4 linked regions of the Homo sapiens genome follow. The protein of the gene in region 1 purifies or fractionates together with the protein of each later gene. This does not show direct contact. Each region holds a gene or a part of one and is shown in the gene's direction. Other genes may lie near its edges.

Evidence for each region.
Region 2: the proteins of SLK (region 1) and SPECC1 purify together in Homo sapiens (affinity purification with mass spectrometry, with the first as the bait; one large-scale study listed by BioGRID). This does not show direct contact.
Region 3: the proteins of SLK (region 1) and PTPN23 purify together in Homo sapiens (affinity purification with mass spectrometry; one large-scale study listed by BioGRID and IntAct). This does not show direct contact.
Region 4: the proteins of SLK (region 1) and RBM28 purify together in Homo sapiens (affinity purification with mass spectrometry; one large-scale study listed by BioGRID and IntAct). This does not show direct contact.

The regions. Positions count from the first base shown.
Region 1 is NC_000010.11:103,972,714-103,977,681, forward strand, and holds part of SLK (STE20-like serine/threonine-protein kinase), read left to right. Parts: intron 1-4,968. UniProt on the Homo sapiens protein: Mediates apoptosis and actin stress fiber dissolution.
Region 2 is NC_000017.11:20,315,380-20,319,931, forward strand, and holds the end of SPECC1 (cytospin-B), read left to right. Parts: 3' UTR 1-3,647; downstream 3,648-4,552.
Region 3 is NC_000003.12:47,382,958-47,387,925, forward strand, and holds part of PTPN23 (tyrosine-protein phosphatase non-receptor type 23), read left to right. Parts: intron 1-4,968. UniProt on the Homo sapiens protein: Plays a role in sorting of endocytic ubiquitinated cargos into multivesicular bodies (MVBs) via its interaction with the ESCRT-I complex (endosomal sorting complex required for transport I), and possibly also other ESCRT complexes.
Region 4 is NC_000007.14:128,312,504-128,317,471, reverse strand, and holds part of RBM28 (RNA-binding protein 28), read left to right. Parts: intron 1-2,451; coding exon 2,452-2,708; intron 2,709-4,197; coding exon 4,198-4,297; intron 4,298-4,968. UniProt on the Homo sapiens protein: Nucleolar component of the spliceosomal ribonucleoprotein complexes.

The DNA.
Region 1 (4,968 bases):
TTTAATATTGTCAGAATTTTAAAGTTTTGACAGGCTGATAATGTGTTACATTTCTCATTGTGCATTTAATTCACCTTTCACAGATTACTAAAAGTAATTCTTTTAATATGTTTTTGGTAATTTGAATTTCTTCTTTTGTGTTCAAGTCTCTTATCCATTTTTCTCTTGAAGTCTTTGTTTGTATGTTGATTGTGTGTGTGTACAATATATGTGTTTTGAATTTTAACCATTTGCTGGTGATAGTTATTGCTAATATAGTCTCATTCTGAGACCTGTCTTTTCATTCTCACTGTAGTGTCTTTTTATGAATTCTTTAACATGGTCCAATTTGTTAGTTTTTTCCTTTACAGTTGATGCTTTTTGTGTTATGTTTAAGACATTTCTTCCTAATGTGTGATCATGAAGATAATCTTCTATATTATCTTCTAAAAGCTTTATGATTTTGCTTTTCTTTAACAATTAGATCTATAATCTACCTAGAATAGATGTTTGTAAATGGTATGAGGTAGGGGTCCAGTTTCATTTTTTTCCCCATATGGATACACAATTGTCCCAGAACTATTTGCTGGGAAGAAAAATAATTCCCCACTGCTCTGCAGTGCCCTGTTATGTAGCATGTGTCTGTTTCTGCATTCTCCGTTCTCTTCATTGATCTATTTGTCTATTCCTATACCAGTATCCCACTGTCTTAATTAGGAAAGAATTAAAATAAATTTCTGCTGCTTCTTCAACATAGTTTAGTAGTATTGTTGGCCCTTAGGGCTTCTATGTACATTTTCCAGTTAGCCTGGTTGAGTGCCACAAAAAATCTGTGTTTTTTTGGAGAGATTTCATTGAATTTATAAATCAGTTTTGGAAAAATTAACCTCTCTTTGATATTGAGTCTTCCCACCTGTGCATGTTTTATCTCTGTTTAGGTCTTTTTTACTATCTTAATAATGAGTTACAGTTTTTTTCCCTAGAAGTGGGAACACAAACTACTTCAAGGATGTTTTAAATACTTTGTTTTTCCTGTTAGAATTTCCTCCTTGTTTTTGTTGTGTACAACCTTTAGTAGCCTTCTGAGAAAGGATCCATGGAAAACATATTTTTTAAGAACTTGCCTGTCTAAATATGTCTTTATTATAAGGTCACAACTTAATATATATAATTCTAGTTCAAAAGTAAGTTTTTAAAGAATTTTTAAGATTTAGAATTTGTTAGTTTTGAAGACTTTCTTCCATTCATTATCTTTTGGCTGCAAGAGTTGCTGTTGAATGTCTGATGCCATTTGGCTTCCTGGATCCTTTGCCATCTTTTTCTCTTAATAGCCTTTAGGATTTTCTTTTATCCTCTGTTCGTGGTGATGTACTTTGATATAGGTCTTTTCTTCTTCTTTCGTTTTGCTGTGCTCTTGGTTGGTCCTTTCAATCCAAAGACTTATGTCCTTCAGTTCTGTGACATTTTCTTGTATTATTTATTTGACAGCCTCCACCCACCACTTCCCCCAATAATGACTCTTGCCATGGTCTTAAGATTCTTCATGTCCCTAAATTCAGGGGACACTTACCATCTTACTTGACCTGTCATTACCATTTGAGATACTTGGCCATTCTTTCCTTTAAAAAGTTCATCTTGGCCGGGCGCGGTGGCTCACGCTTGTAATCCCAGCACTTTGGGAGGCCGAGGCGGGTGGATCACGAGGTCAGGAGATCGAGACCATCCTGGCTAACACGGTGAAACCCCGTCTCTACTAAAAATACAAAAAAAAAATTAGCCGGGCGTGATGGCGGGCGCCTGTAGTCCCAGCTACTCGGGAGGCTGAGGCAGGAGAATGGCGTGAACCCGGGAGGCGGAGCTTGCAGTGAGCCGAGATTGCGCCACTGCACTCCCGCCTGGGCCACAGAGCGAGACTCCGTCTCAAAAAAAAAAAAAAAAAAAAAAAAAAGTTCATCTTTTGGCCTTTTTTTTTTTTTGAGATGGAGTCTCGCTCTGTCGCCCAGGCTGGAGTGCAGTGGCGCGATCTCGGCTCACTGCAAGCTCTGCCTCCCGGGTTCACGCCATTCTCCTGCCTCAGCCTCCCGAGTAGGTGGGACTACAGGTGCCTGCTACCACGCCCGGCTAATTTTTTCTATTTTTTTTTTTTTTTTTTTTTTTTAGTAGAGACAGGGTTTCACCATGTTGGCCAGGATGGTCGCGATCTCTTGACCTCATGATCCACCCGCCTCGGCCTCCCAAAGTGCTGGGATTACAGGTGTGAGCCATCTCACCTGGCCCGTCTTTTGGCTTTTAAGTCACCATACTCTTGATTTTCCTTCCACCTCTGTGTCTGTTCGTCACACTCCTTTGCTGGTTCTTCCTCTTTCTGACTTTAAGGTGTGGGAATTCCACAGGGCTTGGGTATAGGCCACCTTCTCCTTTTCTTAAGAGAACCGGTCTTCTCCCATGGCTTCAATTACCATCTAAGTGCAATTTCTATCTTTACCCTAAGACCTCCCTTTTGAACTCCAGATCCACACATCCAACTGTCTATTAGAGATTTCTGCTTGGATGTCTCACAGATACCTTAAACTGCAAGTCCAAAACATGAACTAATTCAGCTCATGATGTCAGTCACAAATTTGCTCCTTCTGTCTTCCCACTCAGTAATTACCACTTCCATCTACCAGTTGCATAGGCCAGAGACCTAGAGGTCATTTTTAACACCTGTTGCTGCCTTCCCCGCCAAACCTAATTAAACACCAAGGCCTGTTAATTCTACCTACTAAATATTTCTCAAAAATACTTCTTTCTTTCTTCACTGTCATTTCACTAGTCAAAGCTGCTATCATCTCTTAGACTACTGCAGTCTTATTGGTATGTTTTTGGGCTTCATATAATCATTTACATGATTCTTTTAATCCTGTAATCATTTAATATATTCCTTTGTGTTGGGCTTCTTTTGCCAAACATTATATGAATGAGTTTCATCCATGTTGTTGCATGTAGTAGTAATTTGATCTTTTTCTTTGCTTTATGGTATTTTATGAAATATTATAGTTTATCCATTCTGTAGTATTTGGATTGTTTTCACTTTTTGTATGTTAAAAATATGATTCACGGCCCGGTGCAGGGGCTCACGCCTGTAATCCCAGCACTTTGGGATGCCAAGGTGGGAGGGTCACTTGAGCCCAGGAGTTCAAGACCAGCCTGGGCAACATAGGGAGACCCCATCTTTATTTGTTTTATTATTATTATTTTTTCTTGAGACAGAGTCTCACCTCTGTCATCCAGGCCGGAGTGCAGTGGCGCGATCAACTCCCCAGGCTCAGGTGATCCTCCCACCCCAGCCTCCCAAGTAGCTGGGACTGTAGGCACCTGCTACCATGCCCAGCTAATTTTTATATTTTTTGTAGAGACGGGATTTTGCCATGTTGCCCAGGCTGGTCTCAAATTCTTAGGCTCAAGTGATCTGCCCACCTCGGCCTCCCAAATTGCTAAGATTACAGGTGTGAGCCACCATGTCCAGCCTTAAATTTTTTAAATTAAAAACCAAAAAATACGATTCATGAATATTCTTGTGCCTTTTGGTGCACATGTGCCATTATTTCTGTTGGATATATACCGGGAAGGAATTTTCTAGGTCATAGGTTATACATATCTTCCAAAGCGGTTGTACCAATTTACACTCCCATCAGTAGGGTATGGGAGTTTTCCCAGTTGCTCTGTGTCTTCACTTACACTTGGTATTGTTATTAATATTATCTTTAATGTTTTTTGTTAGCCATTCTGTTGAGTATAAGTGGTTTTATTTACATTTTCCTGATGACTAATGAAGTTGAGTGCCTTTTTATGTGCTTATTCAATATTTGGGTATCTTTTTTTGGTGGAATTCCTGGTTATTTGCCCAATTAAAAAAAAAAAGCTCTATTTTGAGGTATAATTTATATACCACAAAATTCACCCATATAATTTTGTGAGTTTTAGTAAATCTGTATAGTTTTGCAGCCATTACTACAATCCAGCTTTGGAAGCTTTCTGTCACCCCCCGAAAGTTCTCATGTGCCTATTTTGCAGTCTGTCTCTATTCCCACACCAAGCTCAAGATAGCCCTTACTTGCTTTCGGAATGGCTCTGTAATTTTGCCTTTTCTAGAATTTTTTAATAAGTGGAAACATACAATATGTATTCTTAATATGTATGGCTTTTTGCACTTAGCACAGGGTTTCTCAGTGTTGGCACTACAGCCGTTTTGGACAGGATAATCCTTTTTTGTGGAGGGCTGTCCTATGCACTGTAGGATGCATCCCTGACCCTACCCCTTTGTGACAACCTAAAATACTTCCAGACATTGCCAAATGTCTCCTGGATGGCAAAATCAGCACCACTGGTTGAGTGTAATTTTTCAGGATTCATCTGTGTTATTCATTTGTCTATTAAAATTTTTGGTTATTTATATTTTCCTTAATGATTTGTAGGATATGAGGTCCTTTTTCCACAATGTAGATTGCTTTTCATTTATTTAATTCTTTTTCCTGATCCATAGAGGTATTTTTAAATTAGAAAATAAATTTATTAGAAAACAAAGGTTGAAAATAAACAGAATGAACAAACTCTATTTTTGCTTGCCCCAAAACCTCAATAAAAACTGTTATCTGGCCAGGTGCAGTGACTCATGCCTGTAATCCCAGCACTTTATAAGTTTGAGGCAGTAGGATTGCTTGAGCCCAGGAATTCAAGAACAGCCTGGGCAACATAGCGAGACCCCATGTCTACGGAAAGTAGTAAAAAAACTTAGCTGGGCATGATGGCACTCACCTGTGGTCACAGCTGCTGGAGAGGCTGAAGTGGGAGGATCCCTTGAACTTGGTGGAGGCTGCAGTGAGCTGTGATTGTGCCACTGCACTCCAGCCTTGGTGACAGAGCAAGACCTCGTCTCAAACAACAACAGCAAACAACTATTATCTCTTAAAATTTTAATATTTTTTCATATAAGTTCTGCATTTCCTT
Region 2 (4,552 bases), on another chromosome or scaffold:
AGTGCTCAGTCCGGCCCGAGTGCCCATCTGGTGGCTCTGCCGTGTTCTTCTGGGCGGATCTGTGTGCACTACACAGCGAGTGAGGGCGTGGCTCACACAGTTGTTTGAGGGAAATGGGTAATGCCCATCCCTTGCTGTTTTAAGTGCCAAATAGCGTGTTAGCGCCCCTCCAACAAAGGATCATCCTTCCAGTGAGTCACCGAGAATGACAGTGACTGCCATTACTATTCAAAGTACATCTCTGATTGCTGATCTGAGCCACTGGTTCAGAGCCAGGTTCTAGAGGCTGCAGGTCCAGCCCCTTACCATTCCTGGAGAGGTAGGAGCTCAGTCCCTTCCTCCAAGCCAGACCTTTGCAGAGGTGGCAACTGGGCTGCACGGGTCAGCAGATCCCTGATTCTCAAGCCACCTTGAGACAAGAACTCCGCCCCCCTGTTAGTGCATCCCAGCTGCAGCTCTGCATCAGAACCTACAGTGGACCCTTTTGAAAACACTCTTGGCTGCCCTAGTTGGTTAACTTCAGAATGTCTGGAATGGGACCAGAGATGCAGTTCACATGTTTTGTAAGTTCTTTAGGCGACTGAAGCACAGCTGCTTGGAGAACCACTGAGGGGTGGACACCTTCCCCTGGCAGCCACAAGGCAGGCAGCCTGCGGGAGCTCCTGAGCAGCTGTTGGGCGATGGTCATTACATCACCCATGCCTTTGTATTTAAATGAAACTCGACACATAGAACCAATTCAACCTGAAAGTTACTACTTCTGCTGATTCAGGCACTTGTTTGAAGCATTTTTTTTTTATTAACCCTGTACTTCTTCTTTGCCCACCATTAAAGTGGGGGAAAGTAATATCCCAAGTAGTTGAGTTGAGCTGTTGGTTGTTAGATTTAAGCTGGAATTAGTCCAGGGTTTTATGTGGGGAGGCAGTTGCTGTCTTGGGATACCCGGAGTGGGAGTGGGTGTTTTCTGTGATTGGTTCTGTTTTTTATTTTTACTTATTTATTTTGAGATGGAGTTTCATCCTTATTGCCCAGGCTGGAGGGCAATAGCACCGTCTCAGCTCACTGCAACCTCCGCCGCCCGTGTTTAAGCGATTCTCCTGCCTCAGCCTCCCATGTGGCTGGGATTACAGGTGCCCATCACCACACCCAGCTAATGTTTTTGTATTTTTAGTAAAGAGGGGGTTTCACCATGTTGGCCCGGCTGGTCTCGAACTCCTGATGGCAAGGTGATCTGCCTGCCTCAGCCTCCCAAAGTGCTGGGATTACAGGCATGAGCCACTGAGCCCGGCTGTTTTTTTGTGTTTTTTTTGTTGTTGTTTGTTTGTTTTTTTTTTTGAGACAGAGTCTTGCTCTGTCGCCCAGGCTGGAGTGCCAGTGGCGCGATTTCAGCTCACTCAGGAGTGAGCCACCACACCTGGCCTGTGATTGGCTCTATTTTGAGTGATTACGTGTAAATCATCTAGAACCAGCTCTGAGCAATGGCGTTGCGGTGTCCCTCCCTCCCCGCTGGGGCCATACCAGCCCCTCTCCACTGGGAGCCCAAGTTGCCAATGACTGTGGCCAAACTCCCCCATTTTTGTCTGTATCCTGCTCTCTTTAGGTTAAAAAGAAGGAAAGAAACATGAAAGGCCATGTACAATTTATTTTTACAACTCCAGGAGTTTCCCCGACTACCATTTTTTTTTTTTTTATTTGCCAGTGGTGTGCATGTAGAAGAGGAATGCCATGTCCTGTCCATAGAAATACACATGGTGGTCAGGCATGGTGGCTCATGCCTATAATCCCAGCACTTTGGGAGGCTGAGGTGGGAGGATTGCTTGAGCCCAGGAGTTTGAGACCAGCCTGGGCAACATGGCAAGACCTCTGACTCTATAAAAAAATTTTTTTTTTTTTTTTTTTTTGAGAGAGCGTCTCACTTCTCTGTCACCCAGGCTAGAGTAGTGTGATCTTGGCTTATTACAACTTCCGCCTCCCAGGTTCAAGAGATTCTCCTGCCTTAGCCTCCTAAGTAGCTGGGATTATAGGCACATGCCACCATGCCTGGCATATTTTTGTATTTTTAGTAGAAACAGTTTCACCATGTTGGCCAGGCTGGTCTTGAACTCCTGACCTCAAGTGATAAGCCTGCCTCAACCTCCCAAAGTGCTGGGACTACAGGGGTAAGCCACCGCGCCTGGCCCAAAATTTTGTTTTTTAATTAGCTGGGTACAATGATAGGCACCTGTAATCTCAGCTGCTTGGGAGGCTGAGGTGGGAGCATCACTTGAGCCCAGGAGTTTGAGGCTGCAGTAAGCTGTGTTTGTGCCACTGCACTCTGGCCTGGGCCAAAGAGCAAGACCCTGTCACACACACACACAAAAAAAAGAAATACAGGTGGTGTTTTGGGGAAGGGAAGGTTCTGCTGGGGTCCTGGAACTGTGACTGATGGCCTCAGGAGTCCAGGAATAGGCCTTCTAGCACAGCAGCTAGTAGGGCTCCCCCAAGCCATCCGCTGGCGTGTGGAGGTGCAGGACCTGGGGGAGGCAGTCCCCAACCCAGCTAGGCCAAGGGGTAGGGTTTTTAGGTCTGTTTTTAACAGAGCTCAGAGCACCAGGTGAAGGTGGAAAGTTGGCAGGAAAACAAGGTCAGCATCTTATTTTTTCTATACTCAGCAGAGTGTGCCATTCCCAGTTTCTGTCCTGAGGATTTCAAAGACCACAACAGCCACATTTCTTTCCATCTTCCCTCAGCCAGTAGTCATTTAAAATTCTTCAGTTGTTCTGAAGATCCTTTTTTTAATGTATCATTTTTACATGAAAGACAGCTGCAAAATGCAAGCCCCAGTAGAGTTGGAGAGTTTTTCAAGGTGAGAAGTCGCTGTTCTCTGCATTGAACATGGATTGAATTTTCCTTGTCTGATGGTAACCCATGGCCCCCGCCCTGCGGGGATAACATTCTCAGGAGCTTCTCTTGTCCTAGCCCCTTCTCATTTCAAAAATATTAGTCTTTTATTTTCCTTTTTCATTCAGTTTTTGTTTTACAGCTTTTGTAGAGACCAACCCAAGTAGATGCAGGTGGGTGTTAGATAAAAACACACATCCCCAGGGGACAAGCCATCCAGCGGTGAGGAATCTCTGCCATGTTCTCTTCCCTGCTGCCCACAAACGTTACGGAGACTCCCTTAGCCTCCCCCTCCTCTTCCCCACTGAGGGGCAGCTTGTGGAGATGGAGGACTCGGGCCCATAGATGCAGACCCCCTACCAAATCTAGCAATAGTTCTCACCCTTCCAAAGCTCGAGTGCCATTTTGAGATGACCTACCAATGACATGCAGTAAAGGACATAACCTCACAGCCTTTTTAGAAGCATTTCGAATATCTACAGTTGCCTCAATTCACGGGGCATTTCACTCCTCTGATCCAGGTTAGAATTTTGCTAAATCTGTAGCATCCTGAATAGCACACTAATTTTTTTTTTTAGCACACTAACTTTAACTACATTAGTTGAGTGTAGTTGATACATCTGTGGCCTCGTGTCTATAAAGAGCACACTAGATTGTACCCAGCACTTTTGGATATGACATGCTAATTAGATGTATTTAACTATTCATAGGAAAGTGTATGATAAATGACTGTAATATTTCTAATAAATATATTTTGTTTCTAATTATTTTTTTCTCACTGACATTTATCAATATTTTTTCAAAGTGCCACCCTTAAACTGAGTCTGTTTTCAGACCAGCATCTTCATGCATATATCCTTGTCGGGTCACAGTCTCCACTGCAGCTGCTCTTGCGGGTGGTGCTGGAATTTTCCACAGAGGACTGGGCTCCTGCTGGTTCCTCCGCTGCCCGTGTGCAGCTTTCTTGCTCAGGCCACAGGCTTACGTGAAGATCACCCTTCAAGGCCTACCCAGGACACTGCTGAGCTGTGCAGATGTGCACACGATATGTGCAATGTGTGACTAAATGCCAACTGAGACCCCAGAAACCACTCGCAGGGGGAATTATGCCAAGATTGAGGAGGCAGGGTGAAGATACTTTTTTTCTTTTTCTGGTTTTTTTTTTTTTTTGAGATGGAGTCTAGCCCTGTCGCCAGGCTGGAGTACAGTGGCACGATCTTGACTCACTGCAACCTCCGCCTCCCGGGTTCAAGCGATTCTTTTGTCTCAGCCTCCCGAGTAGCTGGGACTACAGGCACGTGCCACCACGCCCAACTAATTTTTGTATTTTTAGTAGAGAACAAGGGGTCACCATGTTAGCCAGGATGGTCTTGATCTCTTGACCTCATGATCTACCCGCCTCTGCCTCCCAAAGTGCTGGGATTACAGGTGGGAGCCACTGCGCCCGGCCACAGATATTTTGTAAATGATTGCTTCCTTACCCCTTCCTAGTTCATGTTTTCTTAAACATAGTTACATTTCTTCTTTGCTATACTAAAAATCCCTAATTTTAGTTGGTCAGAGAGAGGGATTTGAGACTGAGCTCCCATCTCCTCGGCTGCAGCATCTGATTAAAGCCTTCTTCCTTTGCAATACTCATCTCAGTGGTTGGCTTTCTGTGGGTGAGCAGCGC
Region 3 (4,968 bases), on another chromosome or scaffold:
ATTATAGGCATGAGCCACCGCGCCTGGCCAAAACTCCTGTTTTCTGTTTTACAGAATAGATCCGGTATCTTTTTTTTGGAGACGGAGTCTTGGAATAGAGCCAGTATCTTTAGTTTTCCATTAGAGTTCTTCCAGACTTATCCCACTTCTTTCAGCATTTATTGAGTCCCCACTGTGTGCTTCATCTACTGTGTGCATCTGATAGAGGTACCCTAGATTCTGTTCTCAGTCACTTGCTGTTTCCTTACCATACTCTGTTTCCTCTTCTGTGCCGTTGGTCATGGAATTCCTCCTGCCTAGAAGAGGTCTCATTTTGCCCTGTGGGGTGGTGAGGTGCCCTTCTTCAATCTCCGTGAATTCCATTTTCTTGTCTCCCATCCAACTTTCAAGGTCTACTTAAGCTCTCCTTTCTGCAGAGCCTTTCTTAATCTTTCTACCTGGATTAATCTTTCTCTTCTCTTAATTCCTTAACTCTTTTCATCCTTTCCCTGGTGACAGTTATGTATGCTGTGTTTTAACCCCCCTGTTCAAGTGTGTGTTACCTGAGAAGCATCTCTGTGTTCCCCAGAGCCTAACAGTGTACCCTCTACATAGTTGGCAGTCAGAAAAATATTTCTCAAATGATTGAATTACAGCTGAGCGGAAATTTAGAGATGGTGACCATAAATATATGGGAATGCAGTAGATAAAATCTTGGCCCAGAAACTCCTAGGAAGTATTTTTGTTTGAACTTAGCCTTTGCTGCTCTGACGATTCACACCGACCCAAAGGGTATTGTGTGACCAGTGACTTCCCTCCATGCACCTGGGCCTCCAGGAGAGGAGTTGCTCATTAGCCCTTTAGCCCGAGGTGGTATCAGATATGAAACAATTACTCCTATAGACACTGGAGGAGACTGTGCAGACACCACTGCAGCCTGGGGACTCTTCCCAACCTGCACCCCCTTCCCCAACTGCAGAGCCCCTTCTCTGCCTTCTGCCACTGGCACCCTTGTCCTGCTTTATGCTTGCTCTGAGCTGTGGGAACCTCTGCCAGTGAATTGGAGCTGAGGGTTAGAATTTAATTTAGAATAGAAGGGTGAAAATTGGTTCTGTTTACATCAACTGGTTAAGTACTATGCTGAACCTTGATAAGCAGACAAGTAAGAGACAGCCTTTTTTTTTTTTCAAGGAATTCATAAAGGAAATTTAAAAATTATAGTGATGACATTAAGAGTAGAAGTATTTGTAGGCCGGGTGCGGTGGCTCACGCCTGTAATCCCAGCACTTTGGGAGGCCGAGGCGGGCAGATCACGAGGTCAGGAGATCAAGACCATCCTGGCTAACACGGTGAAACCCCATCTCTACTAAAAATACAAAAAATTAGCCAGGCATAGTGGCGGGTGCCTGTAGTCGGGAGGCTGAGGCAGGAGAATGGCGTGAACCTGGGAGGCGGAGCTTGCAGTGAGCCAGGATCGTGCCACTGCACTCCAGCCTGGGTGATAGAGCGAGACTGTCTCAAAAAAAAAAAAAAAAAAAAGAGTAGAAGTATTTGCAGTGTATAGAAATACCAGCCTGAGGAGGGGCCATCAGGGAAGGCTTGCCAGAGATGGATTTTAAAGGATGAATAGGAGTTTTCCAGACAGGTAAAGGGGTTCGTTGTTTGAGAGGGCTGGGCTTTTGACAAATCTTTCATGGTGGCTAGTATTGATTTTCACTCCCAGTAGACAAGCCTTCCATTATGGCATAATGTGAAATAGAAGCCAGAAAAACAGGATGGTTTTGAACTGCAGTGGCAAACTTTAGGTTAGGATATTGGACCCGTGTGAATTTTTTTTTTTTTTTAGATGGAGTTTTGCTTTCGTTGCCCAGGCTGGAGTGCAATGGCACCATCTTGGCTCACCACAACCTCTGCCTCCCGGGTTCAAGCGATTCTCCTGCCTCAGCCTCCCAAGTAGCTAGGATTACAGGCATGTGCCACCACGCCTGGCTAATTTTGTATTTTTAGTAGAGACGGGGTTTCTCCATGTTAGTCAGGCTGGTCTTGAACCCCCGACCTCAGGTGATCTGCCTGCCTCGGCCTCCCAAAGTGCTGGGATTACAGGTATGAGCCGCCACACCCAGCCAGACCCACGTAATTTTTTAGTGGGGAAATGCTGCTGGCCTTGCATCTTCTTAACTTGTGCTTTGGAGGCCAGAGTGCTGATTCACTGGAAACTGATGATGGATGACTCTTGTCCTCTTTATCAGTGAGTGATTTGGCCTCAGGTATTTCTGTTTGAAGTTCTTTATTCTTTCTGGCCCAAACACTTGCCCTTAACCAGCTGTACTTGAGCTCAAGTCCAGCTTACTTGGACTGAGCTGTTACGTTCATCCCTGATTCATTCATTGAACAAATAGTTATTGAGTGCCTGTCATGTGCCAGCCCTGGGTACAGTGGTGACAAAAACCTGTGTCTTGGCTGGGAGCAGTGGTTCTAACCTGTAATCCCAGCACTTTGGGAGGCTGAGGCAGGTGGATTGCTTGAGTCCAGGAGTTTGAGACCAGCCTGGCCAATATGATGAAACCCCATCTCTACTAAAAATACAAAAATTAGCTGGGCATGGTGGTGCGTGCCTTGTAGGCCCAGCTACTTAGGAGGCTGAGGTGGGAGGATCACTTGAACCCAGAGGTGGATGTTACAGTGAGCCAAGATCACACCACTGTACTCTAGTCAGGGCGACAGAGTGAGACCCTGTCTCCAAAAAAACACCACAAAACCCTGTCTTCATGAAACTTACCTCCTAGTAATCTACACAGTAACCCTCATCCTCAAGTGCAGGTGTACATCTGGCTGGTAGCCACCCTGCCTGTCACTTGGCTTCTCTTCATCTCCCATCCTCCCACTCTGGCTGAGTTGATCTCTAAATCTCTACTTTCCCATCAGGCTGCTCATGGCCTGTCCCCAGCTTGCTTCAGCCTGTCTCTCTAACTTCACTCCCCAGTCCTCTCCTATGAGAACTTTCAGCTTCTCTTCCTTCCACATCTGGTCACTGCCCTTGCTCAGGCCCTTACTGGAATTCCCTTCCTCCTGTTTATCACATGGGTTGAACTGTACGTCATTAGGGTCCTCTCAGCCACCCAGCAAGTGTTTGGGCCAGAAACAAGAAAGAACTTTTCCCTCCTCTGAATTCAGACTGTCTTGCTGTCCACCACTGGGTTAGCCTGCACCACAGAGTGCACGCTGGTTTTTTTTTCTTTTTTTTTGGAGACAGAGTCTCGCTCTGTCACCCAGGCTGGGGTATAAATGGTGCAATCTTGGCTCACTGCAACCTCTGCCTCCTGGGTTCAAGCAGTTCTTGTGCCTCAGCCTCCCGAGTAGCTGGGATTACAGGGGTGTACCACCACGCCCAACCAATTTTTGTATTTTTAATAGAGATGGGGTTTCGCCGTGTTGGCTAGGCTGGTCTCGAACTCCTGACCTCAAGTGATCTGCCCACCTCGGTCTCCCAAAGTGTTGGGATTACAGGCATGAGCTACCGTGCCCAGCCCACAGTGCACACTCTTGTTGCCTTTTTTTTACTGTTCATTTTATTCACATCCGGGTAGAAGCCTGGTTTTTCAGGCTTATGGAATTTTTTCCCCTTCCAGATTTTCCATGGGATGGCTGGCTCTTGAAAAACTAGCTTGCACATGTATGTACATACACAGACACATACATAGAAAGGTAAATAAGAGGACTAGAGGCCTAAAAGGCCTCTGGCTGCTCAGCAGTGAGGGGCATGGGACATTGCCTGTTACCTGTGGTGGTGACCTGTCTTATCTCTTGTCACAGATTTGGAGTCACCCAGTTGCCTGAGCCTGTCTGTTCACTTGTATTTGCAGCGGAACAGCTCCAGGCACAGATGACCTGGATTGTCCATTATTCTCTGACTTGAATCTCATACACCAGAGGCCTATATCCATTTCAGTTAGAGTTTAGACCAGATTCTTTCCTTTACTCAGGACGTAATAAAATATTTGTATATAGGGAGTGCTTAACAAGCATTGGTTGAATGACCTAGTCTAGTTCTAGGACCTTCTGGGAGAGGTAACCTGAGTCTTCCTCACTGTGTTGTTCAGACAGGCAAGGGGCCATTCAGAAAAGATGTGGGAACGAGGCCTTGAGTATTATTGTAGGGATTAGACAAGGGGAGGATGAAGGTATGTTTTTATCCCCAGTACTCTTGGCCTATGGCGGTTTTCTTTCAGGCTTGCTGACATGGACCAAGGAGCTGAAGATTTCACTTGGCAATACGCCATTCTCTGAATATAATTAGTCTCATTTGAAATTTAGTAGCTGAACATATACTGTATTAATTAACAATACTGGTCAGGCACGTTGGCTCATGCCTGTCATCCCAGCACTTTGGGAGGCCAAGGCAGGAGGATCAGTCAAGACCAGGAGTTTGAGACTAACCTGGGCAACAAAGCAAGACCCTGTCTCTACAAAAAAAAAAAAAAAAAAAGAAAGGTCAGGCGTGGTGTGGTGGCACACACCTGTAGTCCCTGCTACTCAGGAGGCTGAGGTGGGGGGTATGGCTTAAGCCCAGGAGGTCGAGGCTGTGGTGAACCAAGATCTCGCCACTCCAGCCTGGGTGTCAGAGACCCTGTCTCAAAAAAAAAAAAAAAAAGTTTGTTTCTTAGAGTAGCCCAAGGAATGCCCTACATTTGAGTCAACTCTGGAACTGGAGAAAAAAGAAACATAATGTAACTGGTGAATAAAGGTAAAACTAACACATGTGATGCCTTTTAATTGCCTTTTCTTCTTGTCTTATTGCTTTAATTAGCATGATGAAATTCCAAATGTTAAATTAAGAGCAAAGCATACATAGAAGAATGAGAACATACTAGTACAAGAGAAGGTGACACAGAGGGATTAATATTAGGTCTGGAGTCAGGAAATCTGTCTTGGGGTCCTAGCACTATCATTGCTTATCTGTGGTTTGCCCTTTCTCTAATCTGCAAAATC
Region 4 (4,968 bases), on another chromosome or scaffold:
ACAGCAGAAGGGAAAGGAAGGAGAGAGGAAGCAGACCAATGTTATTTCCAGTCAGCCGTTTTTTACAGTGTTTGGTGATAGTACGTGCCAAAATTAATGGTTGAGGTTAAGGTTTCCCATTACCTGTAGATTTCAGTTATCTCTTCCATATTTTCTTTTATTAGTTGGCTCCAGAAGTGTGAAGCCTGATAGTTTTAGTACTGTTTTTAATCTGGTGTGGTATAGAAGGTGGAGCAGGGACTTTAGGAATACGTGTACTCATGCTCATACTCTGGCTCTGCCCTTTTTGCTGCATGTTCCTTGGCAGTTATTACCGCTCTGAACTTCAGTTTGTAAAATGGGGTGGACAACATCTGCCTCACATGATTGCTGAGGACTAAATGAGATAATACATGTCCATCGTCTAGCATACTGCATGGTCAGCACGCAGTCAGTACTCATTCTCTTACCCATCTTCCCCCAGGACATACAGGGCCAGATTATTCTTGACTCTGTCATTCTTAGAGCTCTCATTGATATTGCACAGCAAAGTTCCCTTGCATATACAGCAAACATTTGTAGTCTTTGTGGTATATACCAAGAGGATTACCAACAGACGAGCCATTCTGGTGGTTAATGCAGTGGCCCTAGGTTGGAAAATCTGGGATCTGGTTATTGTTCAAGGCAACTTTGTTCCCCAGATAATAGAATTGTTTATTACTGTTAGCCATTGTTTCAGAGGTGATTCTGAAGCTACCAGTTTTGTTTGTTTTTCTGTTTGAGATGGAGTCTTGCTGTGTCGCTCAGTTTGGAGTGCAGTGGCACAATCTCAGTTCACTGCAACCTCCACCTTCTGGGTTCAAGTGATTCTCTTGCCTCAGCCTCCTGAGTAGCTGGGACTACAGGTGCACACCACCATACCCGGCTAATTTTTGTATTTTTTTAGTAGAGACAGGGTTTCACCATGTTGGCCAGGCTGGTCTCGAACTCCTGACTTCAAGTGATCCACCTGCCTCAGCCTCCCAAAGTGCTGGGATTACAGGCGTGAGTCACTGAGCCCAGCCTAGTTTGTTTTTTAACATCCAAATTACTTTATTTGTTGCCTGGATTTATATTCATACTGTTCTTTCTGTGTAAAAATGCCTCTACTCACTTTGCATATGCAGATCAAATGATCTCTTTCAAGTTGCATGCCTCCACCTCTCTCAAAAGATATAAGGCCCTCTTTACTTGATTTTCATGAACTTCCTTAAGCTGTGTAGTTTTTTTTACTTTGGTTTATTTGTGAATGCATCTCTTATCTCCACCTGGCTGTGAGTCCTGAAGGGTAGACACTATTTTTTTGTATCCTGGAAACAGACTGGCACACACTAGGCATATAATAAATGTTCATTGTATCGTTGTACCTATCTAGATTTCTAAGGTGAAAGGGAAGAACAACACACACTTATCATTACATTAATTTCACTTGAATCTTCTGTTTCTTCCACTTCAGTGCAAATACTTCTATAACTTCCTTGATGCCTTCCTTCCCACAGCATCTTTTTCTTGTCGTCTTTACTTCATTTATTCCATTCCTGATGTTCTTCCTTTCTTGAAAACGATCAGTTTCTGACCTATGTCATTTTTCTTCTCTCTGAAGAGATTATTTCGCATTTCTTGCAGACAGGTCTACTGGCAACAAATTCTCTCCATTTTCTTTTGTCTGAGTAAGTCTTTTCCTTCACTTTTGAAGGATAAGTTTATCGGATACAGGATTGTAGGTTGGTGATTTTTTTTTCTTTTAAAAATTTAAATATTAAATATCTCACTTCACTCCCTTCTTGCTTACATGGTTTCTGAAGAGAAGTCTTGGAAATCTCTCTCAATCTACTCTGGTTTGGGAGGGTGCCTATTAAAAACAAAAGAGAGAGAGATTTGATGTAATCTCATCCTTGTTCCTCTATAGGTAAAATTTTTCCCCTGTCTGGCTTCTTTCAAGATTTTATCTTTGATTTTCTGCAGTTTGTCTATGATATGACTGGTTGTAAATTGTTTAGTATTTATCTTATTTGGTCTTCTCTGAGTTCCTAGATCTGTGGTTTAGTGACTGTCATTAGTTTTGAAAAATTCTCAGCCCTTATTACTTCATTATCTTTTCTGTTGCTTGCTTTCTTCTTGTATTCTCCTTCTACATAGGTTACACCTTTGATAATTGTCCCACCTACTGACTTTTGAATTTTGGGCATGCACTCTCCCTTATTTCTGTGTTATGGGAAGGGGAATGGTTATTTTGTGCCCCCCACCCAGTAACCATCTGTTACTGTGGCAGGGCTTGTGATCTACATGTATTCACTTTCCTCTAGTCTCCAATTGTGTGGGGGAAGAATTCCTCTTCTTTCATCTAGCTCACATAAAGCTCATCTTCTGCTGAGTATTTGCAGCAAACAAAGCTCATCCAGAAACCAGATGGCATTTTCTTGTTTTATGCAGCAAAAAATGAGATCCAAGCCTGCAACTGGTGAGCCTCAGAAGGGGCAACCAGAGCCTGCAAAAGACCAGCAACAGAAGGCAGCTCAACACCACACAGAGGAACAAAGCAAGGTGCCCCCAGAGCAGAAGAGAAAGGCGGGCTCTACCTCATGGACCGGGTTCCAGACCAAGGCTGAAGTGGAGCAGGTGGAGCTGCCTGATGGAAAGAAGAGAAGAAAGGTCCTGGCGCTCCCCTCACACCGAGGCCCCAAAATCAGGTGAGATGCAGGAGGGCAGAAGCACAGAACAGTGGGTGGGTTCTAAGCGGGTTTGTTTTTGCTGAGTTATTTTCTCTTTGTGGCATTTGTTTGGTTGAAAAGGATGTTTGGTGCTATGTATTCCCACACATGGGGTTAACACGCGAGTCTTCAACACCATCAGAGATGTCACTCTTAGATCAATGGCAGAGGGGCCTCCTAGGGCAGGCTTTTGTGCCCCTTTTCTCCTCTTTTGAAGAGCTTCCTCTTGTCCAGATGGCCATCTCTGCCAGCTGAGACCACATACTTGAGGTTCAGTTGTAGTTTCTGTTTGGGACAGCAGATTAGTGCTCTACAAAAGTAAATCTTTACAAAATATTTGTTAAATAAATGAAGGTTTTTGAGATATCCATGGGGTTTTATTTATTTATTTATTTTATTTTTAGAGACAGTGTATTATTCAGTTCTTCCACTGCTATAAAGAAATACCTGAGACTGGGTAATTTATAAAGAAAAGAGGCTTGGCTGGGCGCGGTGGCTCACGCCTGTAATCCCAGCACTTTGGGAGGCCGAGGCGGGTGGATCACGAGGTCAGGAGATCGAGACCATCCTGGTTAACATGCTGAAACCCCGTCTCTACTAAAAATACAAAAAATTAGCTGGGTGCGGTGGCGGGCGCCTGTAGTCCCAGCTACTGGGGAGGCTGAGGCAGGAGAATGGCGTGAACCCGGGAGGCGGAGCTTGCAGTGAGCCGAGATCACGCCACTGCACTCTGGCCTGGGCGAAAGAGCGAGACTCCGTCTCAAAAAAAAAAAAGAAAAGAAAAGAGGCTTAATTGGCTCATGGTTCCACAGGCTGTACAGGAAGCATGACAGCAGCTGCTCATCTTCTAGGGAGGCCTCAGGAAACTTAATCATAGTGGAAGGTGAAGTGGGAGCTGGCACATCACATGGCCAGGAGCAGGGGGGAGTGTTTTAAACAACCAGATCTTGTGGTAACTCATTCACCGTCACGAGAACAGCACTGAGGGGATGGCGCTAAACCATTCATGAAGGAGTCATCCCCATGATCCAGTCACCTCCCACCAGGCCCAGCCTTCAACACTGGGGATTACAATTCAACGTGAGATTTGAGCAAGGACACAGATCCAAACCATGTCACAGGGTCTTGCTCTGTTGCCCAGGCTAGAGTGCAGTGGCATGATCATAGCGCACTGTAACCTCAACTCCTGGACTCAATCCACCTTCCTCAGCCTCCTGAGTAGCTGGGACTTTTTAATTTCGTTGTAGTAGAGACGGGGGATTGCTATGTTGCATAGGCTGGTCTCAAACTCCTGGCATCAAGCAGTCCTAAGTATACAAATGTTGAGCTTTCAGAGGGTCTGTTGCAGTATCCCTTTTTAGAATGACTTCACTTATCATGGGCTTGGGAAGGGCCAGTGTACAAAGAGAACCTAGGGGTGTCAAATTAGAAGAAGGACTCAAGGTGACACTCAGCCATGTTATTTCAGGTTGCGGGACAAAGGCAAAGTGAAGCCCGTCCATCCCAAAAAGCCAAAGCCACAGATAAACCAGTGGAAGCAGGAGAAGCAGCAATTATCGTCCGAGCAGGTGAGTTCTGCAGGACATACAGCTTTGGTATGGCATGGTTCTGCCAGGTCGTAGCCATGTTTGTACCTTGGTTAGTTGAGCAAAAAAGAAAAAAAGAAAGACTTCTGTGTAGGACGGTAGCTTTTTAGAGAATGTTGAGCTATACAATCTTAAAAGTGGAGAGAAAAAAGTAAAATGAACCTCCACGTATCTGTTCCTGTGTTTCAGCAGTCTCCTTGTTTTACATATTCCCCATAACATGCTTTCCCCACTAGAGTATATTAAAGCAAAGCCCATTTCACATGTAAATGCGTCTCATATGAAAATGAAACATATTGCTCAGAAAAACCTCAGAGTGCATCTCTAACTGATCAGGCCTTAAACACACACACCTTATGCCATTATAATATCTAATGAAACTAATAAGCCCTTTATCATCTACTACACAAATGATATATTAAATCCATATTAAAATTTGCCAAATTGCCTGAAAAAAATTTTTTTATACTTGGTTAGTATGAGTCGGGATCCAAAGTCCCACATTATACTTGGGTTTTTAATTTCTTAAATCATTTTTTTCTTCTCTAATATCCATTCTCCCTTACCACCCTTTTTTCCATGCTATTCATTTATTGGAGAAACCAGGTCATTTGTGTTACATTTTTAATTTAGCCATTTGCTTCTTTGTGGTG